Linked DNA regions of Homo sapiens. The protein of the gene in region 4 interacts with the protein of the main gene of each other region in a biochemical or structural test. Each region holds a gene or a part of one and is shown on either strand. Other genes may lie near its edges.

Region 1 (7,354 bases), on a different chromosome or scaffold from region 4:
GAACTTCACTCCCTTTTATTGCTGAATAACATTCCATTGCATGGACACAGCACTAATATTTGGTATATTTGAAGTTTGTACAGCTTGTGTAGGATGAAGCTCCTTCTCTGTTCCTCACATCACCACAACCCCAGTGTGTGCATTTGGGAGGTCAGTGGAATGGCCACACCCACCCAGAAGAGACTTCTTGGCTAAGCAGGGGAGGCGTGGATGATGCCACCTTCTTTTTCTCCCCAGGAAATAACAATGAGGCATGGGCTAAGGATTTGAAGCTGGCAGACTTTGCGCTGCTGTGCCTCGATGGCAAACGGAAGCCTGTGACTGAGGCTAGAAGCTGCCATCTTGCCATGGCCCCGAATCATGCCGTGGTGTCTCGGATGGATAAGGTGGAACGCCTGAAACAGGTGTTGCTCCACCAACAGGTATGGACCACAGGGCTTCTAGTGCTTTCTTAGCTGTGTGGGCTCATGTTAGGTGAGGAGATCACAGAGCTAGGTGCACCAGCCCACTCGATCCTCTCTAGTCCTCTACTTGAAGCTCATGGTGAGAGTATTGGCTTCATGCTGTGGCGTTGCCCAGAGTGTCAACAAGAACAACAGAGGCTTTTGACTCTGGGCTTTCTGGGACTCACTCCATTTCTGCTGAGACTCTGTGCCCTGGCCTTGTTGCCATCACTGCCTGGCTCAGAGGCTGTCTTTTTCCCTCCTGCTGTTCTTCTGGCAAATGAGGAAGCCACTGAGCCTTCCTCCCACATGCATTAGTATAGTGCTTTTTACTCAGGTGACATTTCCTGAACCTGGGCCGAGTGAACAGTGCTCTAGGCCAGGCCTCTAAAACAGCAAACTCAGAAGGTGCCCTATAGATTTAGGGCTCTCTAAATGTGATTTGAACGAAATCCCAAAATTTTCTTAAAATCTGGGATTTTATTAGAACTTCTATTTTTATCATATAACATCATGTCTCTGTGTGCTTTTGAAGAAAACAACTCAGGAATAACAAGACTGGCCACCATAACTGGCCTTTATGGAGCTCTTAATGTGCACACACAGTGGTGCTGGTGAGAGAGCTGCCGTGACTGAGGGGTTTGGGTCTCAGTCTCCCCACATGGGAGCCTGGGACAGAGCAGGAACTGTGTGAGGGAGGCAGGGTGACCGACCTGCACACTGAGCTGGTTAGTGGCTGAGCCTGGGTTTTCCTAGCAGCCTGCCTCTCTAGAAGAGCTGCATATTAGAATGTCCTGAGCAATTGACTTGTGAGGGCAGATCTCAAAACCCCTCCATTGTTGCCTTGTCACCCATAAGAAGTTGTATGGGAAAAGGTCACAGGTTAAGAAGGAAGGAAAGATGGCAGATGGTAGGAGGTAGGACCAGAAGTGGTGCGAGGCCTGGATGCTGCCCAAGGCGGGCCTGCCACCAGGAGTGTGGGGTGGGGGACTCCACTAAGGAGGTGGAATGACTCCAGAACTCAGCTCCTTCTGCCCCATGGTTTTCTCAGGGCTGTTCTTGGGTGGAAGAAATACCCCTTTGCCTCCTTTAACCCATAAATTCCTCTTTTCCTTAGCTACTCACTGTCTGCCCTTTTGTCGCAGGCTAAATTTGGGAGAAATGGATCTGACTGCCCGGACAAGTTTTGCTTATTCCAGTCTGAAACCAAAAACCTTCTGTTCAATGACAACACTGAGTGTCTGGCCAGACTCCATGGCAAAACAACATATGAAAAATATTTGGGACCACAGTATGTCGCAGGCATTACTAATCTGAAAAAGTGCTCAACCTCCCGTAAGTAGACCCTAGCTAGCATCCCCGAGAAACCACCATGGGTGAAGGTCAAGGTTTGAGGGCCAAACAGCATTCTAGGAACGAACACAGGTGTAAAAATGTTAAGGAAAGATAATATCTCTTTACAGTTCAGGAAATTATAATCTCATTGATAAAATAATTAGAGAATAAAATAGAGCAGTATGTAATAAATTTTTATAAATTTTATAGTACGGATAGTGATGGCACTGTCATGAAATCTTTGGAAACTGATAATCCATTTTATTCAGTAAAATGAAAGGTGCATATATACATATGCATTGAGAAATGACAAAACCAGCCACGTGTGATGGCTCACACCTGTCATCCCACCACCTTGGGAAGCAGAGGTGGGAGGATGGCTTGAGCCCGGGAGTTTGAGACCAATGTGGCCAACACAGAGAGACCTTGTTCTACAAAAATAATTTTAAAAATTAGCCTGGTGTGGTGTCAAGCACCTCTAGTCCCAGCTACTTGAGAGGCTGAAATAGGAGGATTGCTTGATCCCAGAAGGTTGAAGCTGCAGTGAGCTATGATTGTACCACTGCACTACAGCCTAGGTGACACCGAAAGACCCTTCCTCAAAAAAAAAAAAAAAAAATCTGATTCTAGACAGTTACCATAGATGCCAACTATAGAGAAAACAAAATCTCAAAAAAATTCAAGTGTAGGAAAACACATCTTAACCAGGGAAATATGTTGATATTAATTTAATCCCTTAAAAATATTTAGAAGACATCACAGAGTATTGTAAGGCTCCCGGTGATAACTGTGGGATTTCAGTGTGCACAGCTCCCTGTGCACTGCAATCATTCAGATTCCTATTCCTGGTCCCTCACCCAGAGTTGGGGGCATTAGGGATGCTGTTGGTCCAAGGATGGGGGCAGGGCCAGAAATGTCTTTATCGGTAGTTTTCAATGAGAGACAATTTTTCCCCTGAGGGGATATTTGACAATGTGAGAAGCATTTTTTTGATTCTTACAACATAGAGGGTGCTGCTGGTAACAAATAGGTAGAGGCCAGGGATGCTACTAAACAAAGCACAGCCAGCCCCCTGCAATAAAGGGTTATTATCAGGCCCCAAATGTCAATAGTGCCAAGGTTGAGAAACCCTTTTCTGTATTGACAAACAACTCAGGTCACTGTGATGCAGGTCAGGACCACCCTCTGAGAAATATGGCTACAGGGCTCTTCTTGTGAGCAGCCAGCTCAGGACTGCATAGACCACATGCTTCTTGAGGGCAGGCCAGTCTATCCATGCTGTGTCCCCAGCACTTAGCACAGCAACTCACACAAAGCAGGTGCTCAGTAAGGATCTGTGAATGAATGAGTGAATCTGCAGGTGAACATGATTGCAAACAGGTTCACATTCCGGGAGAAGCTAGAGGACCACCAATGTCTTGTGAACTTGAGAATGTGACAGTCGATTCAATCAGAGACAAGTGCAGGGTGGTTGTGTCTCTCAGGCCAGAGCAGGGAAACACCCTGGCTGGTGAGGGCTAGACTCTGGCTCCCTTGAACACCGTAGTCGCTAGGAGTAGGGGAGTGGGAATATGAGTGTGGCAAGCACTGACTCAGTGATGGGAGAAGGGCAGAGAAAACTCTTAGTATTCTCTTTGATTTATTGGATTAAATAACTGGTTTAATGGAAGAAATCAGTTTCTGAATCTCTTGCTCTGTTGTGTCCCACAGCCCTCCTGGAAGCCTGTGAATTCCTCAGGAAGTAAAACCGAAGAAGATGGCCCAGCTCCCCAAGAAAGCCTCAGCCATTCACTGCCCCCAGCTCTTCTCCCCAGGTGTGTTGGGGCCTTGGCCTCCCCTGCTGAAGGTGGGGATTGCCCATCCATCTGCTTACAATTCCCTGCTGTCGTCTTAGCAAGAAGTAAAATGAGAAATTTTGTTGATATTCTCTCCTTATAAAGTGTCACTCATCTTTTCTAGAATTTTATACTGAAATCACATGCCTGACAAAATACCTGTACAGTTGGACCTTCCCTTCCAAGTTTTTCAGGTCCAGCCCCTCCTCTTTCTTGCAGTCTTGGGTATGATGCCCAAGGGTCTGGAATTTAAGGCCAGGCCAAGCACCGGTTTTCCTAAGGGGATCTTGTTGGTTATTCACATAGCTGTCTCAGTGCACGTGCATGTATGTGCCTGGGAGTGTGTGCGTGTCCCCAAGGCAGGGCAGGAAGAGCAAGCATAGGAATTATAACTGAAATGTAGGTTCAGTTGCTCATCACTTGCAGAGTCTAATTAACAAGAGCTAGGTTTGGTATAAAGTGACTTTTATTCCAAAGCTACCTTAGGGGAAGAAGTACAGGCTTCTTTCCTTAAGGGTAACTGCTTCACCTTTGGAGCAGAAAGCAGAGGCTTTTAAATGGGGGGCGTGGCATGCAAGGCAGGAAGTGAGCAGGTAGAGGGTCTGGGTACTGGCTTTGGTGCCTTGTCTACCAGGCAGTTGAGTTGGTTACTGCTGGTGCCTTTGTGGGCAAAACTAGGTTGTAAAAGCAGCCAAAAAATTTCCAGATGGGAGAGTTTCATAGCGGGCATATTTTGGCTTGTGAATTGACTGTTATGTCTCAAGGTAGTCTCTTGGTGGGAGAGAGTTCTGCTCTGTAGCGTCTAACTAAGAGCACATAGTTAGATGAACTTGCCCTGTTGGGAGTGTCTGGTGAAGGGGAGATAAAAGATTATAATTGCATTTCTAAAGAGCTAAGTAGGAAGCAGAGAAAAGGAGAGAGAAGTGAAGACAGAATAATTTTAAATAATGAAGAGAGAAATGAAGAAGGAATAATTTTCCTGCTTTTCCATTGGTTCTTTGGACATAACAGGCAAAAGTGTCAATCAGGGTGAGACTGTTCCTTCAAGGGCAGAGATCAGACAAGTGTCCTGAAACTCTGCCTCCATTGTGGGGGCAACCATTTGGCCATGTTCCCCACTGTCAGTGAGATGAATAGCTCTGCTGCTGCCTGCAAAAGCCTCTGAAACCTGTCAGGAAAGGACATTAATTAAGGTCCCATAATGCTAGGATGAAGCTCTTTTCCTATTTGCTACTTTGAATTATGGCCTGATATGTTGTCCATCCTCACTAACATGAGAAGATTAGTCAGTGAGCAACATCTGATGGGGTAGCCACAGCAGTGATAATGCCAGCACTCTTAAACATGACATTTGAACAGTATGAACTTTCTTGTCTAAATAAGATACTAAAGTGAAATTGAGGCCCACCTATGAAATTCTCCTGTTCCAGGTTGAAAAGAAATGGAACATCGCTGTGTCTCTCTGTTCACGCTAGGTTATATTGCTGTAGCAAATGGCCTCCAAATCAAAATCTTAGTGGCTAACATGACAAAAATGTGTTTCTCTCTTGTGTCCATCTCCATCATGGGTCAGCAATGGATCTGTGGCTCATGTCTTTATTCTGAGACCCAGGCTGAACCAGCAGCCCCAATTTTGGGCATGTTGGGCTTGAGGCAGAGGGGAAAATATAAGAGACAGAGGCAGCTGCTCTGCCTATGGAGTGCTATTCTTTTATTCCTTTATTTTCTTAATAAACTGCTTTAACTTAAAAAAAAGAGACAAAAGCATCATACAATAATACTTACAGTGTCTGCTTGGCAGAGGCCATATCATCTTTATCATTTCATTGGCCAGAGAATTCACATGGCCACAACATCAGTGAAGTCGCCCAGGAGGAAGGGGCAGTGATAGAGGACTGGGGTTAGTGCAACAGTGCAAGGAAAAATCTTCAGAGCATTTCATAGTGCCCAGCCAGAAGGCCATCACAGGAATGTCCCACCCACCCACAAAGGCTTCTCTGCAGTCCTAGAGAGGTGTCCTTTGCCCAGGTCCCACCCCCTTCCCAGAGCATGGCCTGGTAGGTGTGGCTGGATCTCAGTCCCTGTGTGCCACTCACCAGGATGGTTGGGCCTCTGCCTGCACAGCTGCACAGGCCACCCCAGAAACAGAAGATTGACTAGATGCAGGATGCTTCCTGTGATATTTCACAATTTATCCTGCATTAATGATATTTTCCCATACAGAGAACCATGCAGTAGTTCCCAAGGTTGGGTTCCCTGAGGGGGAATCATTCATATTTGATTTCAGAAACCCTCCCTTCAGGCCATTGCTAACTTTTGCTGTAACACCAGTCACTCTCTGAGGTTCAGTAACAGCTTCATCTTCCTCACCCTGTGCCACAACTTTAAGACTGGTTTGGGCACATCCTCTTATCATTTTTGTGTATGTCTCCTGGGGTCTCTAAGTCCCAAATCTTTCCTTAAAAAGTTATTTCTGTAGAGCACCTGATTCTGTCATTGTTCAGGTTGCCACTATGTAACCCACATGGACCTAGGGAAACTGAACAAAGGGGGCAAACGTGGGAATAAAAGACAAGAGACAAAAGAGTATATTTGGAAGAAGCGGTCAGGGGGCACTTTGCCTCTAGTGGACAAGGGCCCTGAGCTTTACACAACCCTCCGTAGTGATTAGACAAAAGAGATAGTGAGAAGGGGGGTGTGGAAGAAGGGATCAGCTGCTCAGTCCACAGTAGGCTTGCAAGACTGCATTCTCCAGATGTCCCAGTAGATAACCTCAAGGAGCCTGGTGCCAGGAAGTGATTGCCCTCAGCAAACCTTCTGGCAGTGGGAGCAGTCGTGAGTTTGCCCACATCCTGCATTCATGATAAACAGTTTGCTGTTTTATCATATAGCCTCCAGTGGAATGATGAGTTGGTCAGTCCCACGAGCCTTAGGCTCCCTAAATATCCCCCTTTCTGTTTATGAATTAATTGAAAGAATGTAAGGCCAGGGTGGGCAGCTCTCATTTTCCGATTGGTGGTCCATCCAATTTTACAGGCTATGAACAGAAGACAGAGACAAAACAATATTATTCCAAGAACTACATGTAAGATGTTAATGTAGTGCCTTAGATAAGTCCAAGGATTGAGGCTCTCCAGGCCTTGCTGGAATTTGGTCCAGTCTTCTAAAGAAGGCTGAAACTCTTGAATTTGCCTATGTAAATCAAGAATTTTGTTTTGTAATTCACCAATATCAAAGGTGATGTTAGATGTGAAAGCTCCCTGCAAATGGGCTTTCACAACGTCCCACAGATACTCACTTTGGTTATATTCTAAGTTGGTTACACAAATATGAGTGTGATTAAAATGACAATGCAATCAAGCTTTGTGCTTTTCCCCTAACCATAGAACTGTGGATTTCAACATTACCACTTTATTGGGAGAACCCACCCTCAGTATTTCAACATAGGTTCCTTCTATTTTCCATAAGTGTTGGCCAGCTGAGAAATAAAGAGAGACAGTACAAAGAGAGGAATTTTACAGCTGGGCCACCAGGGGTGACATCACATATCGGGGGAACCCACCCCCAATATTTCACGTAGGTTCGTTCTATTTTCCATAAGTGTCGGCTGGCTGAGAAATAAAGAGAAAGAGTACAAAGAGAGGAATTTTACAGCTGGGCCTCCAGGGGTGACATCACATATTGGTAGGACCGTGATGCCCACCTGAGCCGCAAAACCAGCAGGTTTTTATTAAGGATTTC
Region 2 (8,049 bases), on a different chromosome or scaffold from region 4:
CAATTTTTTAGAGAATTGTTTGATATGGTGGGAGGCAGAGTTATCTAAATTCACTGTTTTGCATGTGGTTATCTAGTTGTTTCTGTACTATGATTTGAAAGGAGAATTGTTCATCCATTAAATTGTCTTGACACCCTCTTCAAGGAGTAATTGACCATAAGTTTGAGGGTTTATTTCTAGATTCTTAATTCTATCCCATTTGTCTTTATGTCTATTCTTTTGCCAGCAGCTTATGTCTATTCTTTGGCAGCAGCTTCCATTTTAATAATTGTACTCTTTTGTGAGATTTCAAATAAGAAAGTTCAAGTCCTACAATTTATTTTGGCAAGATTGTTTTAGCTACTCAGGGGTACTTTTTTGAAAGGTGGGGAGGCCAATGTTTCACAATTGGGAAAGCCTTTTCTCTCTTCTTCAGGGGGAAATTTGGGAGAAGCTTTTAAGAAACTTTATCTAAGTAGGTAAACTGTCACCACTTTATTTGCTGAAGTGCTATGTTAAAGTGTGCATTGCCTCTTGTGGAAGAATTATGAGACCCTGGAAGCACTTGCCCATGTGGTGAGAGACAGTGAATTCCACGATGAGGGGCAGAGAGGACATTGTTTTGGGATACAGTGTTGTTGGGGGAGTTGTATACATCTCAACTTCTTTATGTCTCTGTACAGTGGGTGTAGGGAGCAGCCCCACAGGGTCGTTGGGTTTTTCTCCCTGTGTGTGGAGATGAGAGATTGTGGAAATAAAGACACAAGACTAAGAGATAAAAGAAAAGACAACTGGGCCTGGGGGACCACTACCACCAAGATGCGGAGACCGGTAGTGGCCCTGAATGCCAGGCTGCACTGATATTTATTGGATAGAAGACAAAGGGGCAGGATAAGGAATGTGTGCCATCTTCAATGATAGGAAATGCCACCTGTGTCACATGTCCACTGGACAGGGGGCCCTTCCCTGCCTGGCAGGTGAGGCAGAGAGAGGGAGGAGAATGAGAGAGAGAGCTTACAGCATTATTTCTGCTTATTAGAGACTTTTAGTACTTTCACTAATTTGCTACTGCTAACTAAATGGCAGAACCACGTGTACAGTATGGAACATGAGGGCGGACTAAGAGTGTGACCACTGAAGCACAGCATCACAGGGAGACGGTTAGGCCTCTGGATAACTGTGGGTGGACCTGACTAATGTCAGGCCCTCCACAAGAGGTGGAGGAGTAGAGTCTTCTCTAAACTCCGCCGGGGAAAGGGAGACTCCCTTTCCGGTCGGCTAAGTAGTGGGTGTTTTTCCTTGACACTGAGGCTACCACTAGACCACGGTCCACTTGGCAAAGGGTGTCTTCCCAGACGCTGGTGTTACCGCTAGGCCGAGGAGCCCTCTAGTGGCCCTGTCTGGGCATAACAGAAGCCTTGCACTCTTGTCTTCTGGTCACTTCTCACTATGTCTCCTCAGCTCCTATCTCTGTATGGCCTGGCCTTTCCTAGGTTATGATTATAAAGCGAGGATTATTATAATATTGGAATAAAGAGTAATTGCTACCAACTAACAATTAATGATATTCATATATAATCATATCTAAGATCTGTACCTGGTATAACTATTCTTCTTTTATATTTTATGATACTGGAACAGCTCATGCCCTGAGTCTCTTGCCTCAGCACCTGGGTGGCTTGCCGCCCACAAGTGGGCATCTCCATTGGACACAGTAGGTTTTGAAATCCTTGTTTATCCTCTGGGGTCTGGGTCTTGGCTTACCTATTAGCTGCAACTGAAAGAGGAGTCTGTTAAGTCAATGACTCCTGTACGGAGTAGAAGGTTTCAGCAGAGTGAAAGTAGCTGGGGTTCATAGAAGCCAGGAATGTCTGACTCTTAGAAACTGTGTGTCAGCAGATGGGTGTCCTCAGGGGTACATGGGCCATGCCAGTAGCCACTGCAGTGGACTGGAAGAAGGTAAGGGATGCTGGGTATCCCATGTTCTCTCTCAGCTCTGCAGCTGAAGATTTGGGCCCTGGGCTTGTACGACCCTGAAGCAGGGGAAGGGTATACAGGAATGGCTGCATATCAGGACCAAGTCCATGTCATCTTCTGAGGCATTGTTACTGCAGATGGAGGATTCTGTTCAGAGACCAGGCCTGGACACATGGGAGGGCCCACCCCATTCTTTTAAAATTGTTTTAAGAGAACAGTATTAGCAAATGTAGTACATGTTTTATTCTGCTAGAATCAGTCTTACTGTCACGTTTTACAATGTATCTCTTAGGAAATGGTGAGAGCCATCCACACAATGTGCATTTAAAGGGGAGTCTACTATAATTTCAGCTTTCCTACTCTTTATAGAAACCATCTTCTCTGCAAACACACAGGCAATATCTCTGTGTTCATTTCTATTGGGAGCCCTGTATGCAAGATGGAGAGAGCCACATTTCCTCCTGAGATGTTATGTAAAAGTCTGAGGTTGAGATGACATATCTGACACTCTGTTGTTACCCTCAGAAGCTCCTATACTACATGTGAAATTCTAATGACTGCATTATCCTGCCAAGTGAAAGAGGCAGGCACAAGCAAGGACAGCTAAGAGGGGTGAGAGCCTCATCATGATGGGGAGTCTTATTCTGACATCTTGGGAAAAGCTGTCCACAGTGTGAAGTCATCAACTTGTTTTCCTTGTTTACAGTTTGAGCAGCTGTTGTTATGGTGTTGAACATTTTGGTGAGTTCTGAGTGGCTCAGACATCAGGTACAAGGATTTTCCCATGAAATTTACATTGAGTTGTCCAACTCTGACTTATAGGGCTTCTGGAACAGAGTGGGTCTTGCTCTTTGAGGTTCCATGGGAGAAGATGGAATTGGAGGAACTAGTAGAATTCAGGGTAATGTCCAGTCTACAGTGGATAATAAAAACACAGAAACAATGAACAGAGCTGCAATCTCATAACAGGTGTACTACGGTTTTATTTTCCACATAATTTTTCTCTCTATGGGCATCTCTAGTTTTACCAATGATAATTTCAGTAGAATAAGTTTGTTTGCAAAATAGGTTGAGTTTCTTCAAACTTGGTCTGATTGTTTACATAAGTGCAGCAAGAGTAGCAATGGACTATGTAGGCTCTCTTTTAAAATTTTCTTTGCTGTAAGTTTTTATAAGGAATCTCAGATTAAACCTTTACAAAACTCTTGAGAATAGGAAGCCAAACCAAGGCTGACTTCAGAGTTTGCCTGCAGTTCATACTGGTTCATTCTAGCTATATTCTTAAATATAACATCCCAGTCAAAGCCTTGGTAATATAACCAATGATTTGAAATGTGTCCTGTTACAAAGAGAGCAGGTTGTTACTCTGTTTGTGCAAATATCTGTATTACCATAAACATATCAATACTCATGAATAGTTGCCCAATTCTGGGGCATTCAGGTAGAGAGCAAAAGTAAATATTTCAATTATCATTCCCAGAAGTATAGTTTATTGAACCACTATAAGCTAGAGATAGATTAAAAGACAAATTTCCATAAATCTAGAAAACTATCCACATAAAGAATCAGCATATTTTCAAATAAAAATCATAAAAACATTATCCTCATTATTATCAATTATTTCAATGAAATCAATGTTTTTCCTGCTTGGTCTAGGCTGGGAATGTTATGAAGATATCAGCCTGTTTGTTAAAGTTTTCGAAGTTCTTAGACAAATTTGGAGGGTTCAGGAGGAAAATTTGGGATTTGCTTGTGCCCATGGGACACAGGCTGGGAATACAAATGTTTTCCTGACTTTTCTCTGAAAGTCAGATAGACTGCACCTAAAACCCTATTGCCAAGGATGCTGGGATCCACTTACCAGAGACTCTGACTGTCACGGATTTGGAGCTTTCCTTGCCAGTGGCTGAGTTACGAACAGAGCAAGCATAGAGCCCGCTATGCTTTGTAGTAATCTGGGGGATAGAAAGCTTTTGTCCTGATAGCTGAAACTTCCCATTAATTGTCCAAGAATACTGTGCCGGTGGGTTAGAGTCCGCAAAGCAGGACAAGTAGAGGTTTTGTCCTGAATGGTAATAGGTGAATGAAGGGTAAATTCTGGGGAGGTCTGGACCATCTGGAGGAAAGAGAATAAAGCCACAGGTGATGTTATCCGAGGGAAGGGGATGCTCCTGGTCTCTTAAAGGGACAGAGTGACCCTCTGAGCCGAGACACACCCTCAAGTGACAGCCAAATCCCCTCTATGTTCACTGAGCCGAAGCCTGAGGTATTCACCTGTTTCTCCCATCACAAGCTGTGGGCCCCAAGTCTCCCATGACAAGAGCGTCCACTCCCCTTATATTCTTGGTTAAGGCTGTGCCTACCCAGGTTTTCCCAGGGCAGGGAGTCATGGCCAGCTCGGATGTCCAGAAGTAAATATGTCTATACTTGGACCGGAGAGAGACTGAGAGGACTGGCCTCTGGTCGTTTGGAGTTAAGCTGGTGTCCTGGCCCACAGAGGAAGAAAGGATACTCAAGGATACTCACAGAGGACATTCAGGGTGACTGGGTCACTGCGGATGCCACCATATCGGTCCCGTATTTCACATTGATAGGGTCCTGTTTCATTTCTCGTGACACTGGGTAGAATGAGGATCCTGTTTTCAATGCGTCGCTTTACCCTGGGACTGACCGGGAGGCTCTGACCATTTAGCCACCAAATGTAGGTGTAGTTCTCACTCTTAGGTTCACAGGTGAAGGTTGAGACATCCTTATTCTCCCTGGGGTTTAAGTTATTGATGGTGATGTAGGGCTTGGGCAGCTTCGCTGTGTGAATAACAGAGAGAAGATTGTCCTGTGTGGCACCTTTGATTCCTCCACAGGCATCCTTCAATTAGAGTTGGCATCTCCCACCTGTCAACACGTGTGAGTCCTTGAAAGCCAATAGCTGGTGTGTGTGTCACAAGGTAGATGCATGATGATCTAAGGGCTCAAAGACTGTGAGGCCACCTGCTCAGTCTTAGGGAAGCATAGACTTTCTCAAGTGTCAATTGAGCAGCAGTGCTGGGTCATGGACAGACATGTCAGTGGGAGTCACAGCGCCTGGTACCCCTCCCAGTCCCTCACTAATGAGTTGACTGGCTGGCTCACCCTGGGTTCATTACCTGGAATGTGCAACTGCTGGGCCCTTTCCAAATTGCATCCTACTTTGCCCCCCTAGATGTGATTTCTCTGCAACTTCCATTTCCAAGGACATTCTAGAGATGAGTAATAATGGGACTTCCCATTGTCCTGAAACCCTGCAGATACTGAGCAGCCTGGCCTGGGACTGGATGTTTCAGCAGAAATAACACAGGGGAGACCATAGTCAAGCCTGGAGGTCAGTTCAGTCATCAGGCAGTGGAGGCTCAAGGTGGGGCAGTTTTTTGCAGGTGTTTCATGATGACTTACTTGAACCAGTGACCTCTAAAGATAGAGCAGAGTGCAAGGAATGATCTAGAAAGAGTGAAGGGGACAAGCAAGAGCTGGTGGTTTTGGAGCAGAAGCATGTTCCCTGTCCTGGGTTCTTTAAGTTTCCTCTCCTTCTGCAGAGGGCAGGTGAGGACCATGTGGATCTTTCCAGAAATACATGTGGACATTTGCAAATGCAGAACTGACTGGTGGAAAGTGTGGGAATGAACTGCTGGAAATCTGGTCCTCATGGACCATGTGTGTTTGATGGATATAAGACAAATTTGGAGAGAAGTTTTGCAAATATTTTCTTTCACTGGACATTCTACTCTCTGATTCCTTGGGGTTGACTACTCTAGGGACCTCATGTAAGTGGATTCCAGAGTGAATATGAGAAGAGACTGCTGGTTGCCAGGAGCTGGGAGTGGGGAGAATCAGAAGTTGTTCATGGGTGGGCAGTTTCTTTTATGCAAGATGGGGAGTTTCTAGAGATCTGCTGTAGAGCTTGATGCCTATAGTTCACAAAGATGGAGTATTTCTTATGCCTACAACTTAGGACAAAAAGTGTTTTGCATTTCTTTCATTTTTTGATTCTGAAATATTTGTCATATACTTACTGGTTAAGCATCCCAAATCTGATAGATTCAAAGTCTAAGATGCTTCAGTGAGCATTTCTTTTCAGCATCAGATTAGTAGGCATAAGTGGGAGGTGATAAGCCAAAGATATTCTTGCCCTTTTTTTTCTCTCACCACGTTTCTAGCTTGGTGATTAGTTTTCGGTGAATTCCATACTGGCCATGCTGCACTTGTATATTTTTGAATGCCTTGGCATGTGAGAAAGGCTGATTGCTATTTTCTATGTCATGAGAACTTTCCACCTTTTCATGGTTGCATCTTTTTCTCAGTGTTTTTGTTGTGGCAGTCATTAAGAAGAGCCTGTCAGCTCAGATTTAGGACAGAGTTTTCTAATTCTGCAAAAAATGTTACTGGGATGCTGGTAGGGGTTGCATTGAATCTGCAACTCACTTTGCGTAGTATTTTCTTTCTAACAATATTGATTCTTCCAATCCATGAAAATGAAATGTGTTTCCATATATTGATATCATCTTTAATTTGTTTCAGGAAGGTTTGTAGTTTTCAGGGTATAATCATTTGACCTTTTTGGTTAAACTTATTCCAAAATATTTTATTCCTTTTGATGTTAATGTGAATTGAAATTATTTTCTTAATTTCTTTTCAGATTGTTCATTGTTAGTGTATAGTCTGAAGAATGATCTAGAAAGAGTGAAGGGTACAGGCAAAACCTGGTGGTTTTGGAGCAGAAATATATTCCCTTTCCTGAGTTTTGATTTTCCCTCTCCCTCTGCAGAGGGCAGGTGGCTCTTCCCTGATAGCCAGATAGACTTCCCTGGAAAACATATTGCCAATGCTCCAGGGATCCACTTACCAGGGACTATGATCCTCTTGATTATGAGATTTGTTCCACCAGTGGCTGAGTTATGGATGAAAGAGACATAGACCCCTCTATATGTTTTAGTGAATTGGGGTATAAAGAACACTTGTACTGATTGCTGGAACTTCCCATCAATCAGCCAAGAATGCTCGGCCAGTGGATGAGAATCTGTGAGGCAGGGGAGCTTGGGGACTTCTCTTGTATGGTAATAGGTGTATGAGGAAAAAATGGTGGGGGCATCCAGGCCATGTGGAGCAAAGAGAATAATGTCACAGGTGATATTGTCAGAGGGAAGGTAAAATCCTGGTCTGTGGAAGGGCCACAGTGACCCTGTGAGTCAAGTCGCAACACTGAAGTCCCAGCCAAATCCCCGCTGTGTTCATGATCTGGAGCCTGAGACATTCACCTGTTTCTTCCATCACAAGCTGTGGACCCTGAGTCTCCCATGACAGGAGCAGCCTCTTTTCTCTTATTGTGGATCAAGCCTAGGCCTACTCTGGTTTGCCTGGGGCAGGAAGTCACCACCAGCTTTGATGTCCAGGGGTAAAGGTCTACATACTTGGACCTGAGAGGGACTGAGAAGCCCGGCCTCTGGCCATGTGTATTTGGGATGGCAGCCTGGCTAACAGAGGAACAGAAGATACTCACGGAGGAGATTCAGGGTGACTGGGTCACTGCGGCTGGCACTCACTGGGTTCCGTATTTCACATTCATAGGGTCCTGCAGTATAGTTTGTGACACCAAATAGGTAGAGGGTCCTGTTGGTTTCAGACAGCTGCAAGCTGTGAGTCATAGGGAGGCTCTGACCATTCATCCACCACAGGTAGCTTGCATCTGGAGTCTCAGGATCACAGGTTAAAATCACAGCCTCCGTGGCCTCCCTGGGGTTGAAATTGCTGCTGGAGATGGAGGGTTTGGGAGTCTCCACTGTGCGGAAAACAGAGAGAAGATTGCCCTGTGTGGCACCTTTGACTCCTCCAAAGGCATTTTTCAATCAGAGTTGGCATTTCCAACCTCTCAGCCCACCCAAGTCCTTAAAAGCCCATGGCAGGTGTGTGTGTTACAAGACAGATGCATGGCAATCTGAGGGCTCAGAGATTGTGAGGCTGCCTGCTTTATGTGGGAGAAGCATGGACTTTCTCAAGTGTGAATTGAGCAGCAGCATTGGGTCATGGAAAGACACAGGACCAGCAGTCACAGCTTCTGGTGCC
Region 3 (7,973 bases), on a different chromosome or scaffold from region 4:
AAGACTACAGTGAGCTATGATTGTGCCACTTCATTCCAGTCTGAGGATAACATGAGACTCTGCCTCAAAAAAAAAAAAAAAAATTAGAACCGGATTATTATGGCATGAGCAACATGACATTTTTTGAGGTCACAGAACAACTGTTCTGTATCTTGGCTATAGTGGTAATTACATGACTGTATCCATTTGTCAAAACCTAGAACTGCACACCAGAAGGAACGAATTGTGCTTTGTGTAAATTTAAAAATAAATAAATAAATAAATACAAATTTAAATGTCCCTTTAATGTGCTTTGACGTCCCTTTAAAAAGCAGGGCTTCTTTTGTAAAGGAATTTGTATTTTTTGCCACAAAATCAGTTACAAAGTCAGTATTTCCAAGACAGTCTTTCTTAATTGTAGTTGTTAGAGAGACAGACTGAAACATGAGGAGAGAGAGATGAATTGTGATTTATTGGTTTACTCATTTAGGCCTGAAAGGGATTGATGAAATCACATTTAAAATGTATGACTTTACATGAACAAAAGTAAACCAGGCTGATTGAGAGTCCCCTTGGTATCCAGGTCTTTCTGACTGTCACCACAGCGAGCCACTGGAGCACTGGTTTGGGCTTCCCTGGAGGCGGCATCCCAGCGCTTGTGTGGTTGGGGAGGCGCTGGCGGGACAATGTGAATAAATTAGACTGTCTTTGTCATCACAGATGGGGCTCCTGCCGGAGAGCTCAGTGTTGTGGCTCTCTGTGGCTGTCAGGCAACGTTAGACATCTAGGATCTTGGTTCCCGGGGCTTTGGCTACATTCAGGCACATGGGTTGGGCACCACCCTTCAGAGGGCCCTCAGATGGGTACAGCTGAATGAGTGGGTGGATCAGATAGAGGGGGAGGAAAGCAGCCTGGGATGGGGAGGGCAGTCTGTATTCAACTCACTGGTGGGCTGCTGGGACACCCAGGGGCTATGGGGCTCCAGAGGGCAGCCCCAGGATCAACAGGTGGGAGTTACAGGCTTTAGCTCTAGGTGAGGATGCACCTTCTTACCAGTGGAGCCCTCCAAAGACAGAATGGCCTGGCTCCGTAGGTGGTGAGTTCTCCATCCCTGAAGGCATGCAAATGGAGGCTGTGCGAGCATGTCATACGTGGTCAGGCACAGAATCACAGAGAATCAGGATGCTAAAGAGCCTCTCTAGTTTGAGACTGTGGCTCTAAGGCGATTTTCCAGAGATTTTTTGGCACTGGCTTGACAGGGTCTGCTTCCCAGTCTGTCTGGAGGGGCCAAACTAGTCTCCTTTCTGCACCCTGATCCTCCTGAGCATTGGGGTGTGATGCGACGCTGTCCGTCACCTCCTTCCTCCTGCCTTCTGTCTCCTCCCTTTGCTCTCCTTTTGTATTGCAGCCTTATCCAGGTGCAGTCTTGTGGAGAACAACAGGGCTGTCCTTGAGTCACCAGGCAAAGCCCTAGGAGTTCTAGACTCTGCAGTTTGATGGCCTGGAAATGAACATGTTTGTTCCTTGATTTCTCATGTGTTTGTTCATCCAGTCATCCTTTTGCTCCTGGCCCTCACTTGCATATCACATTAACTTACACTTTTCACTCATTCCATGGTTAGATCAGCCTGACCGCCCTAGGAAGCAGGGGTGTGATCCCCACCTTATAGATGACAGCTGGGTGGGAGCATTCCCTGGCCAGGCCTCTACACTGCACGTTGCCCAACACGCTGTGGTGCTGGATGCCAGGGTGGCTGAGTTGCTGTCCAATGCAGGTGAGAGCAGGTAGAAACGCCTGGCCTTGATTATTCCAGCCCAGTGTGAGCAGAGCAGATGCCAGGCATGGGGAGGAAGGCAGAGTGTGGAGTAGGAGTTTGAAACATCTAACACTGGGTCCTGTCCAGGGAGCCCATACCCTCCCTCTCCTCTCCGTCATGTTCTGGCAGTCTAGAACCACATTTCCCTGATTCCCTGATTTGCCCAGGCTTGGGTCGGCTTCTGGGGATGGGGAGGCAGAGGGAGTGGGGGAGCCCTGGGGAGTCTTTACCCTGTGCATGCAAATGGGCATCTTGAATGGACCGCAGGGGATTGAGCTCCAGGGTGTGTGCAGCTGTTCTTCCTGGCATTCTTCTTCCTAACACCCTCCACGTGGAAGGAGAAAAGCCCATCTGTTAGAAGACTCTGCCGTTGGTGGCGTGACACCAGCCCCTCTAGGAGTCGGCTGCCGTTTTTCCTGGTTGAGCTATAGCAGATGGCAGCCGGAGCCTGGAACGGACCCTGGGAGGGAGCACTGAGGCCCAAGCTCTGCCACAGATGGTGCTGGGGGAATTTGGGAAGTTGCCCTTCCCCTCTGGACCCCTGCTTTCCCATTGGTAAAACAATCATTGGATCAGGAGATCGGTCGGCAGCTTTCCAGGTCTGAGGAAATCTCTCTTTTAGGATTCCTGCCCAAGCGTGATGTGCCGCTCCCCTCATGTCAGGACATCACAGCGGGCTCTCCGCGGCAGGGGAATTTAGAGGTGGGTTGCTTGGAACCCTGCAGGGTAAAGGCTGCGTCTCCTTGTCTCCTCCTCCTAGCTCCTGTGGTCGTCGTTCCTCCCCGAAGTGTTCACAACGTCACCGGGGCGCAGGTGGGCCTGTCCTGTGAAGTGAGGGCTGTGCCTACCCCAGTCATCACGTGGAGAAAGGTATTTCTGTCCAAGAACTCATGCATCTCGTGTGTGTGTGTGTGTGTGTGTGTGTGTGTGAGAAAGAGGGAGAAACAGACGTGAGTGGTAAAAATGTTTTTCTTTTAAGTGTGTTTATATATATATGCCTTTATAGGTGGGCCAGAGGATGAAGAAAAGATATCATCTGTACCACTCCTCTGCCTCGAAACTTCTACCCCAAACCTCTCCCCTTGGAAGGGAACATTGCAACCCTTCCTGTGCCACTTACACCCTTGGCCACTTAGGGACCCAGAAAGCTGTGCTTTTACCCAGTCTGCTTCAGCTGCGGTGGCCATGTGTGTGTGTATCCTGCTTCACTTCGGGGCTGTGTTTCAGACAGACCTGGCTGGTGGCAGAAGACTCAGTCCTATTCCAAAACCAAATCTTCTAAAGACCAGTTTTTGAGAGACCGGCAAGGATCACAGCGAATGTTGTCCCCTTAATGTCAATAGCCCTGAGACAGGCGTTGAAATTCTGAATCTTTCTGTGGGATGGTGGTGATGTTCGGGTCTTTGCTGTCTGGCAGAGCGTGCTGTCTATATGTACAAGTAGGTTTAAAAAATGACTGATGTCATTTGCATAGGCATGAGCAGTGCTAGGGTTTCCGTTTTTGAGTCAGTGGGAGGAGGAGGAAGGAGGAGGGCAAGGAAGCCTATGGGATGGTCTTTATCCAGAATTGCTTTTTCTAAGCCCCCTCCTGGCATTCCTGTCCCCTGTAGGTCACGAAGTCCCCTGAGGGCACCCAAGCACTGGAGGAGCTGCCTGGGGACCATGTCAATATAGCTGTCCAAGTGCGAGGGGGCCCTTCTGACCATGAGGCCACGGCCTGGATTTTGGTGAGTGTTTAGGATTATTGGATATTATTGACTGACCATTATAAACCATCCTTTATATTTCTACAACACATTACATGTTTCAAAGCTGTTCTTACCCATTTCTCACTGGCCCCTCCAGTAACTGTGAGGCAGGCAGGGCAGGTTTCAGATCTGCTGGGAACATACGTGTTCTGCTGCCAGGGGCAGAGTGATGGCCCCACAGTGATGTCCACCACGTCCTCACCCCCAGAACCGTACGATGTTACATGGCAAGGTGGTGGGAGGGAGGTTGTGGTTGCTAAACAGCTGAGATAAGGAGATTTAAGATAAGGAGATTAGCCTGGATTATCCGGGTGGGCCAATTTAAAGGTGGGTCTTTAAGTGTGGAAGAGGGAAACAGAAGAGTCAGAGGCAGACTGAAGTGATTCGATGTGAGGAGGACTTGACCCACCATTTCTGGCTTTGATGATGTTGGAAAGGGCCACAGCCAAGGAGTGCCAGCATCCACTAGGAACTGGAGAAGGCAAGAAAATGAGTCTCCTGAGAGCCTTCAGAAAGAATGCAGCCCTGCCGGCACCTTGATCTTAGCCCCCTTTGGGCCTCTGACCTCCAAAACTGTAGAAAAGAAATGTGTTTGTTTTAAGGCACTCAGCTTGTGGCGATTTGTTACAGCAGCCCAAGGAACTAGTACACCTGCCTAAGGTCACCCGCTGGTAAAGGTAGAAGGTGGCACATTCGAGTCCTCCTCCAGAGCTCTTTCCTGCCACTCGCAGCACTTTTACCAAGATGAAGAATGCCACATGTTTGAAAGAGTGATGGAATGAGGAGATAGGGGTCCATGTTGGGTCGTCACTGTACCCTTCTGAGCCTCCATTTCCACTGTTGTTGAAAGAGGGCTTCAAACTGAAAGACCTCTGAGGGCCTTTGTGGCCCTGGCAGTCTGTGATTTACCTGTGAGTCTCCTGTAAAAAGAAGACCATAATGCTCACCCTTCCCCCACGACTGGCATGAGTTTAAAACGAGCTGATGTGCGTACACCAGCGCGTGGTCGGTAGGATGATTTGTAATTGATGGAAGCGGTTGGTTGTAACGAGAAAGCAAAAAAGACGCGAGCTGGTTATGGACCTGGCTGTGAACATCCTTGGGGTGCTCCCTAAGGACAACCTCCTCATTCCACCCACAGCTCTGGGAGGCTTGGTGACTCTTCTCCACCCAGCTGAGAGATTGGGAATGCAATTGGCTGTGCGGTTTTTTCAAATCAAGCACATTCCTCTATTTTCTTAGGAGAAAAGACAGGGAAAAGAGGTTATCTCTGGTGGTATTTTGTAGAGGCTGCCCCTATAGGGAATACTTTCTGGATCATTCTTTGGTCAGTAGATTTTTGTTCTTCTTTTAACTTGAGGTGTTTTCCAAATAACCTATACCTTGCACCTTTAATACAAAAGACCAGGTAGCTCACAGTAAAAGGCAGGTGTGCGGAGGAATCATTCAGATGAGAGCCACAATAGGGAGCGTGCCTTTCAAGAGGGTCCCTGGGAAGGAAATTTACCTGCGTGCTCCTTGGCAGCCAATGCAAGGAGAGAAATAGAGCAAGTTTTACCTTATTCTGAAAAGGAGGAAGTGTGCAGACTTATCATTAAGAACTAACTAAGGAAGTCATTTTGCTGTTCCTTATATAACTGTATAAACTTGCCTGTTGTATTTCTAGATCAACCCCCTGCGAAAGGAGGATGAGGGTGTGTACCAGTGCCATGCAGCCAACATGGTGGGAGAGGCTGAGTCCCACAGCACAGTGACGGTTCTAGATCTGAGTAAATACAGGAGCTTCCACTTCCCAGCTCCCGATGACCGCATGTGATGGAGAAATGTACATGTTCTAAGTCATTTTCAGTATTTTACACCCATGTTATGAGATATTTGAGGTGGCTTATAAGACCTGTAAAAAAAAGAAGAAAAATACGTAAATGGAGGAAACCAGGGAAAGAGCAAAAGAAGAGTAGGGACATACTTAGATGAGCAGTAGAATCCCTGGTATATTCTGCACACATCTCCCTCTGAGCTTCTTAGCATGCAAAGACAAGAGCTGTGAACATGATGTGTGTCCATGAGATGAAAAGACCAGTTGTGTTTTGGGGCTGGAGGGAATATTTCCTCTGTATTCTTCTAGAAAGAGCACTGAGAGAGGTAGCAGACAGTGTCATTGTGACAGCGTCCATGTGAAAATGTTCCCACAAAGAAGATGCCTGAGCTTCCTTTGTGTGTTCCTGGAGCTCTTCCTTGTTCAGGACACCTGAGCTTCCTTCCTGGGGCTCAGGCCTTGCCTTCCTGTCCTCAGCACTGTGTGCTGCTTTGCAACACATCTCCTTGTGGGTAGGGGCAGAGAGAATCTCTGCATCCCCTCTGGTCAAGGCCTCCTAGTCTGTAGTCACACAGGTGACAGCTGGGGTTGCATCTGTTCCTTGCCTACAGGTGAACTGGGAATTCGGGAAAGGGATCACTTTATAAGCCAGCTTTTGCTCATAAAAATCCCAAAATCTTGCTGGTTCACAGCCACAGACGTTGATCACTTGCTCATGTTCCATGTTATAGCTGTGAGCTGGCTGTGGCCCTGCCCCATGTGTCCCCTCATTCAGGACCCAGCTGGAGGAACAGCTCCAGTGTGGAACATGTCCGTTCTGTGGCCAGGCTGCACACACCATTGCATTTAAAGTTTCTGCTCGGATGTGATGTGTGCCCCGCCCATTTACAGACCAATCATTTTTTTTTTTTTTTTTTGAGACAGAGTCTCACTCTGTCACCCAGGCTGGAGTGCAGTGGTGCGATCTCGGCTCACTGCAAGCTCTGCCTCCTGGGTTCACGCCACTCTCCTGCCTCAGCCTCCCGAGTAGCTGGGACTACAGGCACCCGCCACCACACCTGGCTAATTTTTTTGTATTTTTAGTAGAGACGGGGTTTCACCGTGTTAGCCAGGATGGTCTTGATCTCCCGACTTCATGATCCGCCCGCCTTGGCATCCCAAAGTACTGGGATTACAGGCGTGAGCCACCGTGCCTGGCCTGCACGATCCTCTTACAGGAATGGGGGAGCAGTGGTGAACAGGCACCATTACCAAGGCTGATCAACAGGTGCTTAATAGAACAGGAAAAATTAGAAACAAGTCTGATAGGGTTTCTCAAAAGCAGGGGGATTTTGCCATGGTTTTAGTTATATTATTCTTTCAGCCACTACTGTTGCACACCTTCTGTGTGCAAGGCCTTACTTCTGGTCTGTAGGGGATCACAGAAAAACAAAAAGTGGACATAATTATAATACAAGGAGTGCGATGTAAGGGAATGGGAGGAGATATTAAGGCATGAAAAGCAGCTTAGAACTGGGGAAAATGAAGGAAGAATCATCGAGGAGGTGGCATGAGGATTGAAGGATGGGTGTACGTGAGTAGTTAGAGGCCCTAGAAATGGGGAGAAAAATATGAAAATGTAAAACTGTGAAATAGGAATTCAACAAAGAGTTAGGAGATTGGGTCTTAAAATTGTCTTCCTGATGATATGTGACTTGTTTTATATAGATATGTTTCCAGTTTTAAATATATATATCTATAATTTTCAAATACACGTATATTTTGAGGCAGAAATGATTCTGGGTTGTGAATACATCAAAAGGATACCATGAAAAATTGTGGAATTTTAAGAGCATCACTGCTGCCTAGGTCTTGAGTTCCTTCTGTGACACACAGTATTGCCAGCTCTGGCTTACATACCTCCAGGGATACAGAGCTCACTACCACTGAGAGCCATCTGTGGATTTTCCAATGGTTGAAAAGATCTTATTAAGCTGGAGTCTGCTGCTTTGAAACGTCCACCTTTTGGTCTTAAAAGTACTTCTTGGGACTCCACAGGGCCCTTCACTCTCCACTGGCACCATTTCCTGCTGGGGAGAGATTCGAAGTGAAGGATCATTTCCCCCACCTTCCATGTAACACATAGTTGATTGTAACGGAGCAGGCTTACGTTCTCTAATTCTTTCTCTCCTTTTCTTCCTAGGGTCTTAGAAACATTGATCATGGGATGATGGAAAAGTCAAATAACGGATCTTTGTGCTTCATGAAGAGTTGGAAAACCTGTGTGTGTAGATGACCCCTTTTGTGTGTTTTTAAAAATTAGATGCAAACTAGATCTGTATGCAGATGTAGTTTTTAGCAGGGCAAACAGTGAGAAACGGATTTGCATGTGGCTTTTTTATACTTTTGAAATGAATTGTTCCATGAGAAGTCTTTTTGTAATTATTCTCTTCCAGGGAGATCACAGAACGGCATGTTTGCAATTTCGAAAGGGCTCGTGTCAGCTGTGACTCTTTACCTCATTTGTCTATGACCTATTAGTGGTGCTCTGTGACTTAGTGTGTGTTGTAGAAGGAGGGATGAGGGTCCCAGCTGTCCTCTGCCTGACTGTAACTTGCTGTGTGACCTGAACAG
Region 4 (7,973 bases):
TATTGAAAACAAGATACCGAGGGACATTGTAGAATCTCTAGCCCCAAAGATTGTTCAAAATGAAATTGAAAGTAATTTGACTTGAATGATTTAAGTATACACCTGTCTGAGCAAATGGTGGAGCCAATGACCTCCTGAAACCTTGTCAAGGTCTTTGACTCAACATGTGAGTATTCTGTCAAATGCTATACTGCCAGCTTCAAAAACAATATACTTTAACTGATTATACTTGCTTCCTCCCCTCAAGATTCTTAAATGAATTTCTATTACCCTTGGTTGATTCTTTATGTTCATTTACGTTTATGAAACAAATTCAACTGTAATATTTATTTAGATTTCCAAGCCCATGAGAAACATTTGGATGAAAATTAAGACCCTTCAGGGATTTGTGATTTTAGGTAGTAGCTTTATTGACTTGCTTCTGCCAGTGGGATTTACCTATTTTAAAACCCACCTGAGCTTTGTCCTAAATAACTTTGCCCATGCTGTTCAGAGTTGACTTTTATTCTTATAGAACCCTGTATCAGATTGGATTTTTTAAAAATTTCAATGGATGCCATAATCAGAATGAAGAGATAGAAATAGTCTCCCCAAAAGTCTTAGCTACCACACTAATAACTATTGCTACTTTAAAATATCTAATTTTATTTGGAAAATATTAGTTTTTTCTGTCTAAATTTTCATGTACTGACTGATATGTGGTAATAAGCATGCCAGGATTTATATGAATTTGTAATTTCTCATAATATTAACTTTTGGAGCCAATTGTTTTCTTAATTATGATTACCTCGACTGGGTACTTTTTTGCTTATTTAACATAATATCCTTGATTTTAGTTTTTATTTATTCTTGGACATTGTTCAAAGCCCTCAGCTTTTGTGAAAAGCTTTGTAAAGAAAAGACAGGGAATCTAAGCCTGAGATTTATTTGAATACATGAACATATTTCCCTGTGCTCTCTTGTTCCAGGTTTTCAAATTAAAGCTTTCACAGCACTGCGCTTCCTCTCAGAACCTTCTGATGCCGTCACAATGCGGGGAGGAAATGTCCTCCTCGACTGCTCCGCGGAGTCCGACCGAGGAGTTCCAGTGATCAAGTGGAAGAAAGATGGCATTCATCTGGCCTTGGGAATGGATGAAAGGAAGCAGCAACTTTCAAATGGGTCTCTGCTGATACAAAACATACTTCATTCCAGACACCACAAGCCAGATGAGGGACTTTACCAATGTGAGGCATCTTTAGGAGATTCTGGCTCAATTATTAGTCGGACAGCAAAAGTTGCAGTAGCAGGTAGGTGGATTCTTCCTTCTCTTCCTCCTCCTCCTTCCTCTCTTCTTCTTATTCATTTTTGGGGATGAGAAAATAATTTTTGTAGAAATAATGTACATTTTAAAAATCTTTTAAATTTTAAGTTGACAAGTAATTATATATTTTTATGAAGTACAATGTCATGTTTTGATGTATGTATACATCGTGGAGTGATTATATCAAGCTAATTAACATATCTGTCACCACATACTTCTCTCTTTTCTGTGGTGAGAACATTTAAAATCTACTCTTTTAGCAATTTTGATATATACGTTGCTGTGCAATAGATATTAAAAGCTTATTTCTTCTCTCTCACTGAAACCTTGTGCCCTTTGACAAACATCTTTCCATTCCTTACCACGCCCCATCTTCCCAAGCCTCTGGTAACCATTCTGCTCTCTAGTTCTATGAGTCTGACTTTTTTATAATAGATTCTACCTGTAAGTGAGATCATGCAGTATTTTTCTTTCAGTGCCTGGCATGTTTCCCTTAGCATAATATCCTGTAGGTTCATCTATGTTATCACAAATAACAGGATTTACTCTTTTTAAAGGCTGAATAGTATTCCATTGTGTGTGTGTATGTATATCATATATACACACACACACATATATATATATATCTCATATTTTCTTTACCCATTCGTGATTGATTCCACATCTTGGCTGTTGTGAATAATGCTGCAATTAACATGGAGTATAGATATCTCTTATATACCCTCATTTCAATTCCTTTGGATATATACCCATAAGTAGGATTGTTGTATCATATGGTAATTCTAATTTTAGTTTTTTGAGAAAGCTACATAACCATTTTTCATAATGGCTATCTAATTTACATTTTCACCAACAACGCACATTTTTAAGAAAAAGGAAAGATGTAAAAAGATTCATGTTTATTCTGTCATGGATTTGACTGACCTTTCTCCTTAAATTATCTTAGAAAACAGTCATAGGACCTCAACTGGCTGCGTAAAGTTATGAGATTATTTTTTTAAACAAAACTGTTTCAAGTTGACTTACTACTTATATCTAAGGGAGGACTTCTCATTAACAGAAAAATATTAGAAAATATAATTTGCTAATTTTACTTTACAGCTTCATTAAATGCTAAACTTTTGCAGAGTCCATTTTTTTGTTGTGGGGCCTTAAGAAGAGTAAATTTTATTTTAATTATAGTGGCATGGCCTACAACATATACATGTCAAGTAAGAAATAAAAATTCCTTCTAGTGCTTCCAAATTTCTTAACGCTTGGTAACATGTTGGCTCAACAGCTGAGTAATAAGATGAACAGTTTTTGTTTTCACCTGGATACACTGAAGTCATGTAGACTCTGAAAAAATGGTACTGACCATTCTGGAACCCATGATATTGCTATTTCTGCCCCACTCTTCTGGTTAGAAGGCAGCTCATAATTATTTCTGTTGGCCCCTGAAATGTTAGACCTGCAAAGTGAAGAATCAGTTTTTTTACTTGTTTCTATAAAGATTTGACCAAAACCTGTCTTTTTTTTTAACTTTTATATTGACCATAAAGCAAGGCAAGCAGATTGAACTTGAAATAAATTTAAGTTATGAATGGGTAAGCAGATTTGAAGGGCTGCTTTCAACGTAATCTTTAGTTCTCAATAAAAACAATATTGAATCATAGGCTGTTTAGTCATTTGTTATGGGTTTTCTTTCCCAGGTCCTACTTAGTCTAGTCTCATCTTGGAAGACTGATCAGAATAACTCATTTTCATCAATAACAGGACAATTGGGCAGAATCACCACTCCTTCATGCACTCTCCTAGTGAGGGTCTGAGAAAGTTGAAATCTGAAAGATGTGATTTTGTCAGGTGGTGCTATAAAGAATTACATCTCATAGATATGTGGTTAATTCCCATATGTAGCTTCAAACCACTCTTCTGTAGCTTTTCTCCACTAAGAACTCTGTAGACTGAATGTTTTTTCTCCCTAAAATGTGTATATTGAAATTCTAACCCCCAATGTGATAGCACTGGGAGGTGGAGCCTTTGAGAGATAATTAGATCATGGGGTGGAGCCCTCATGAATGTGATTAGTGCCGTTATAAAAGTAACCACAGAACACCCCTGCTCCTTTCACCATGTGAGGATACAATGAGACGTCTGTAATCTGCAACCCAGAAGAGGACCCTCATCAGAAACCAATCATGCTGGCACCCTGATCTCAGATTTCCAGCCTCCAGAACTTTGAGAAATCAATGTCTGTTGTTTACAGCCTACCCAGTCCAGATACTTTGTGATAGCCACCCAAACTGATGAAGGCAGAGTTTTCCATAGTCAGTTAAGCCAGATTTTACCTAGAGGTAGACTGGCTAGCCATTCTGCTTTTCTTTGGACTGACTTGGCTTTTGCACTTGAAAGTCCCATATCCTGGGAAGCCACCTCAGTGCCAGGTAAAACCAGGACAGTGGGTCACTCTACCTCAAAGTGTCCCTGGTCTGCTTTAGCAATGACAGACTGAGGTGCAGATGCAGAAAACCCCCTCTACTCAGGAGACAGGCCAGGTGACATCCTGATGGTGAAAATCAAGGCTATAAAGTAACTGGAACCTTGGAGTGATGAGTGTCTGAAATTTGATTGATGAGTATAAAGTGTAGAGAGAACTGAATGTTAATGTTAATTATGATTGATTAGGAGAAACAAGTGGAATAAATCCTTCAGATTTGGTAAAAGCAGCTTTCTCAGAATGCTCCAAATGAAGTGGAAAGGGGACAATTTGACTTTCAGTCACTAGAGAATTTCTGGCCTCATAGATCCCACCCATCAGTTGTCCACAAGGCCAGAGGAGGTCTGCTGATTTGAATGAAGCAGGCTGATATTTTGATGCCTTATTATGAAAGGCAGCTGCCTATGCACTGTTAATGAAAATGGCCTGTTACATTGCAGTTTCAGTCTTCATGCAATCTACATTCACATTTACATGTGCTGTCTTTCAGTAGTGAAATGAAGAAGAGTTCCTTCGCTGTGAGATATTAAAATACAGTGGCTTGGACTTTAGTATTCTGTACAAGGATAGGCACACGGATTCAGTCACTGAGTTAAAATCTCATATTAGATTGTATCATTTCAAGGCAATAAGGCTGTTCACAGCATTTTAAACACTTACCATGCTGTTTGGCAACACAGAATACATCAATGTTATGTCTGCTGAGGTTAAGATTGCCAAACCACTAGAATTCACAAGGGGCATATATCTTCCCAGTAATAAAGACCATGGACCTGATTTAATCTCAGTTTTAAAGCATTAGCACTCAATAAACCAGTCACCACTAAATGGTAACAGTAGGCTTTGCTTGGGTAAAACAACAACAACAAAAAAATGTTTTGTACTCTCAGGTGCTGTATAGAGCCCATATTAAATAATGTCCCTCTTCCATTTTTGCTTTCTCAAAGTGTCTTTTGATAAAAAGAAGTGTAGCAAATGAAATCTGTCTTTAATCAGTCAGCACATTTTACACAATGATCTTGCCATGCACCATTCATCCTATTTTCTAGGAGCTTCTCAAGTGCTCTTAAAGGCTTGAGTGCACACTTGGCTGGAGAGGGAAGGAAAGTAGGAAAGATAAACGAAGAACTATCATTCCATCCAACATTTTCTTAAAAGTTGCAAAGTAACAGGCTACTGACTCTCAGTATTTCTAGTCATTTTGAGTTCTATCAGTAAAGAATACCTGGGCTATTAAGCCTCCATTTGAAAGCAACTTCATCATACTGGCTGAAATTTGGGAATTTTATTTTTATCCAATTAGCTCTAATCTAAAATGCTGCAGTGTTTCTGTGCCATGTATACTTCTATTTAGTCCTCTAGATTGAGAACAGCTGAAGAAGGGAAGCAGCGCTGAACTTATCTATGAAGCTTTCCTACCATCCCCTCTACTGTGTATCTAGCAAAGTATGTCATGTTAATAGTAGACATTTGCCTTACCAATGAAGACCTGGGGCTTTATGCCATATAAAGAGAGCTTTCCGCTGTTGCCATCCTCCTCTCTACCTCTCCTTCTTTGTCTCCCTTCTACTCCTCCTCCTTCTTCACTGGATTTCAGCAGATCAAACTCACCCATATATGTGCATACATAAACATACTCTTAACAAACTGAGTTGGAATAATTTGCTTTATATCTCAATAGCCTACAAATTAATTAACTATTGAAAACTTTGTGATTAGAAAATTGACTGTTTGGGAATATTCAAGTGCCACTTAAAAAGGAAAAAGCATGAGCATTTCTTCATTCCTTCCCTAACCCTTACCGTGAAAATGAACTTGCATCTGGCCAAGCACATCTTCCCTACTCTAAACGTTGCCAGCTATCTGAGCCTCTGGAGTATTTTCTGTTCAGCAGACATAATAATAACCTACCTCCCAAGGCTGTGGTAATTTTCAAACAACATCTAGGATGTAAAGCTCTAGTGCAGAGTAGATTCTTATTCAATGACAGCCATAGTATAAATAGAACTAACAATTATTATTATTGTGTTATTTTAATAATTATTAGGAATGAACAACTTTCAATATTCCCATGTGATGATGCAAAATATTTTTTTTCAGGGCAATGAAAAATAGGCAACAAATCCTGAGACATACATATTGTAATCTTGGATCAGATATCTGCCTTTGCAATCTGTGAACACAAACTGGCAAGCCTGAATTAAGTTTTCAAAAAGTTAAATCTATGGGAGATTTTTTGGCAAGCAGTGCCCAAATCCCTTGGAATAAAAGATTCATTTTTGACCACTGGATCTACTATTATGTTAATGCAATCAATACAGTTTGTACTGACCAGAGCAGGCGTTTGAGATTGAGTGACCTTGCAATCATTTCCAAAACATGTACAGGGCACTCCTCTCAGCCTTCTTAATGGCTTTTCAACTGAAAAAGATTCACTGAAGCTGGTTCATGGGAGTTCACTTGGTCTCGACTTGGAGTTTAACACAACTGGTACCCTCCTGGGGATGAGGAATTAATTCTAATATGTAAGAAGACTAGATAACAATAGATTTCCTATGAATAAACATAAAAATCCCATTTTATTTTGCTTTTTTATACAACCATGACCCCCTGTCCACCCTTCCCCACACCTACCCACCCACACAGCTCCTTGTCCACTGACTTGCCCTGCACACTCTAAGGAGCACGGTTGGAGCCTAAGTGGTACTTCTGCTTGCATTTATACTTCTGGGGATGGCGTGGGACAGGCTCCTCCAAGGGTAAAGCAATGTTGACTGCTGGATACATTATATTGTATTTGTGTCCAGGTAGATTTGTCTTTGTTAATTTTTCAGCATTTACATTTTAACATTAAAACCACTGACTTGCTTTTTATAGCAGTTTCTGCTTCAGAAAGTGAATCTCTATACATTACCTTGTAATGCTCAGAAACTGTGATTTAAGTACCCAAATTGACAGGTTAAGAACTTACTGGAAAAAGCTAAGAGCTCTATGGCCAGAGATTGGGACTTAGATAGTCTAAATCCAGATGCACACTTATTCCCTTATCACTTTGCTTCTCAATCTAAGGACTAGATTTCAGAACGCTGTAAACAATTTCTTATGTAATCAGTCATTTATTTTTAATCAATGAAACTCTCCACAATACAAATTAAGGAAAATAACAATAATGGTAATAATGATAATAATAATGAAAATCGATTTATCCACTTAGTCCCTTGAAAATGTCAACTCCTTGTGGGAAACACTATGATTTAGATGTTTTCTTCTAAGATGAGAAGATTTTGCTATCATAGCTATACATTCAATAGTGACACATGACAAATCTGTGTCAGAAAAACAGACAGCATATAATTTTTAAAATAAGCTCATAAATAATGATCTTTCTAGGAACACAATTTGGTAATCTTTTATCTTTCTAAGTGGTTTTACAATTCAGGCGAAGTTTGCATATTTTTTTTCTGCTTCTTAAAAATCAAGAAAATAAAAGGCCAACTAAATTGCATTTCTTGACTTGTTATTTCATTCAGGGACATATTTTTTTCTTCCCTATTACAATAGATGTTCAAGATGCAAATTGTCACACTCTGCTTTTAAATAACACCTGCATTATAATTAAAATTCCCCTGTGTTTTTAAAAAATAATTAATTACTTGAGGAGTTGTTTCAGTGAATTCTCTTCTAGAATGCCTCCCATTTAAATGAGTTATGAAATAATTAGTGAAAGCATATTATGGTGAGAGAAGCTAGAATGAAGCATTTTGTGAAATGATAACCTGACCTTTATGTTCTTACTTAAAAGAACCTGAAAAAAAAAAACCTTAACTGAAGAGAAGGAAGAATAAACCACATTGCCTCAGGTCACTCAAATGTTATATAAAGGAAACACCAAGAAAAATGTTTATATTCCTTCTCTCTACAGGAGCAAATATAAGAATTTTGCCTAGAAGGTCAACTTCATCCTGTGCAGCAGTCTGGAAAATGTATCCCAGGGCCCTTGAATACGCTCAGAATTCTATTTGGGAAGGTTTGGTTACAGTGCAGAGCTTTCCATTTTACATTTATAGAGATATTGTTTATTTTCAAATGATAAGCAGAAAATTAAATTGCTCTGACTCTGTAATTCTTAATGACTTAATGATCTTCATTTAGCTAAATGTTCCCATTGTTTTGTAGTTAAAGCATGAGAGAAAG

The links.
Region 1: the proteins of DCC (region 4) and LTF interact in a biophysical measurement, tested with the Homo sapiens proteins (one large-scale study listed by IntAct).
Region 2: the proteins of DCC (region 4) and PSG7 interact in a biophysical measurement, tested with the Homo sapiens proteins (one large-scale study listed by IntAct).
Region 3: the proteins of DCC (region 4) and IGFBPL1 interact in a biophysical measurement, tested with the Homo sapiens proteins (one large-scale study listed by IntAct).

What each region holds. Positions count from the first base shown.
Region 1 is NC_000003.12:46,432,364-46,439,717, reverse strand, and holds the end of LTF (lactotransferrin isoform 1 preproprotein), read left to right. Parts: intron 1-237; coding exon 238-422; intron 423-1,588; coding exon 1,589-1,778; intron 1,779-3,488; coding exon 3,489-3,523; 3' UTR 3,524-4,073; downstream 4,074-7,354. UniProt on the Homo sapiens protein: Transferrins are iron binding transport proteins which can bind two Fe(3+) ions in association with the binding of an anion, usually bicarbonate. Lactoferricin binds to the bacterial surface and is crucial for the bactericidal functions.
Region 2 is NC_000019.10:42,921,956-42,930,004, forward strand, and holds the end of PSG7 (pregnancy-specific beta-1-glycoprotein 7 isoform 1 precursor), read right to left. Parts: intron 7,766-8,049; coding exon 7,487-7,765; intron 4,762-7,486; coding exon 4,483-4,761; intron 4,073-4,482; coding exon 3,818-4,072; intron 2,870-3,817; coding exon 2,853-2,869; 3' UTR 2,177-2,852; downstream 1-2,176.
Region 3 is NC_000009.12:38,408,787-38,416,759, reverse strand, and holds part of IGFBPL1 (insulin-like growth factor-binding protein-like 1 precursor), read left to right. Parts: intron 1-2,556; coding exon 2,557-2,666; intron 2,667-3,406; coding exon 3,407-3,523; intron 3,524-5,210; coding exon 5,211-5,360; 3' UTR 5,361-5,369; intron 5,370-7,542; 3' UTR 7,543-7,973. UniProt on the Homo sapiens protein: IGF-binding proteins prolong the half-life of IGFs and have been shown to either inhibit or stimulate the growth promoting effects of the IGFs in cell culture. They alter the interaction of IGFs with their cell surface receptors.
Region 4 is NC_000018.10:52,751,086-52,759,058, forward strand, and holds part of DCC (netrin receptor DCC), read left to right. Parts: intron 1-968; coding exon 969-1,289; intron 1,290-7,973. UniProt on the Homo sapiens protein: Receptor for netrin required for axon guidance. Mediates axon attraction of neuronal growth cones in the developing nervous system upon ligand binding. Its association with UNC5 proteins may trigger signaling for axon repulsion.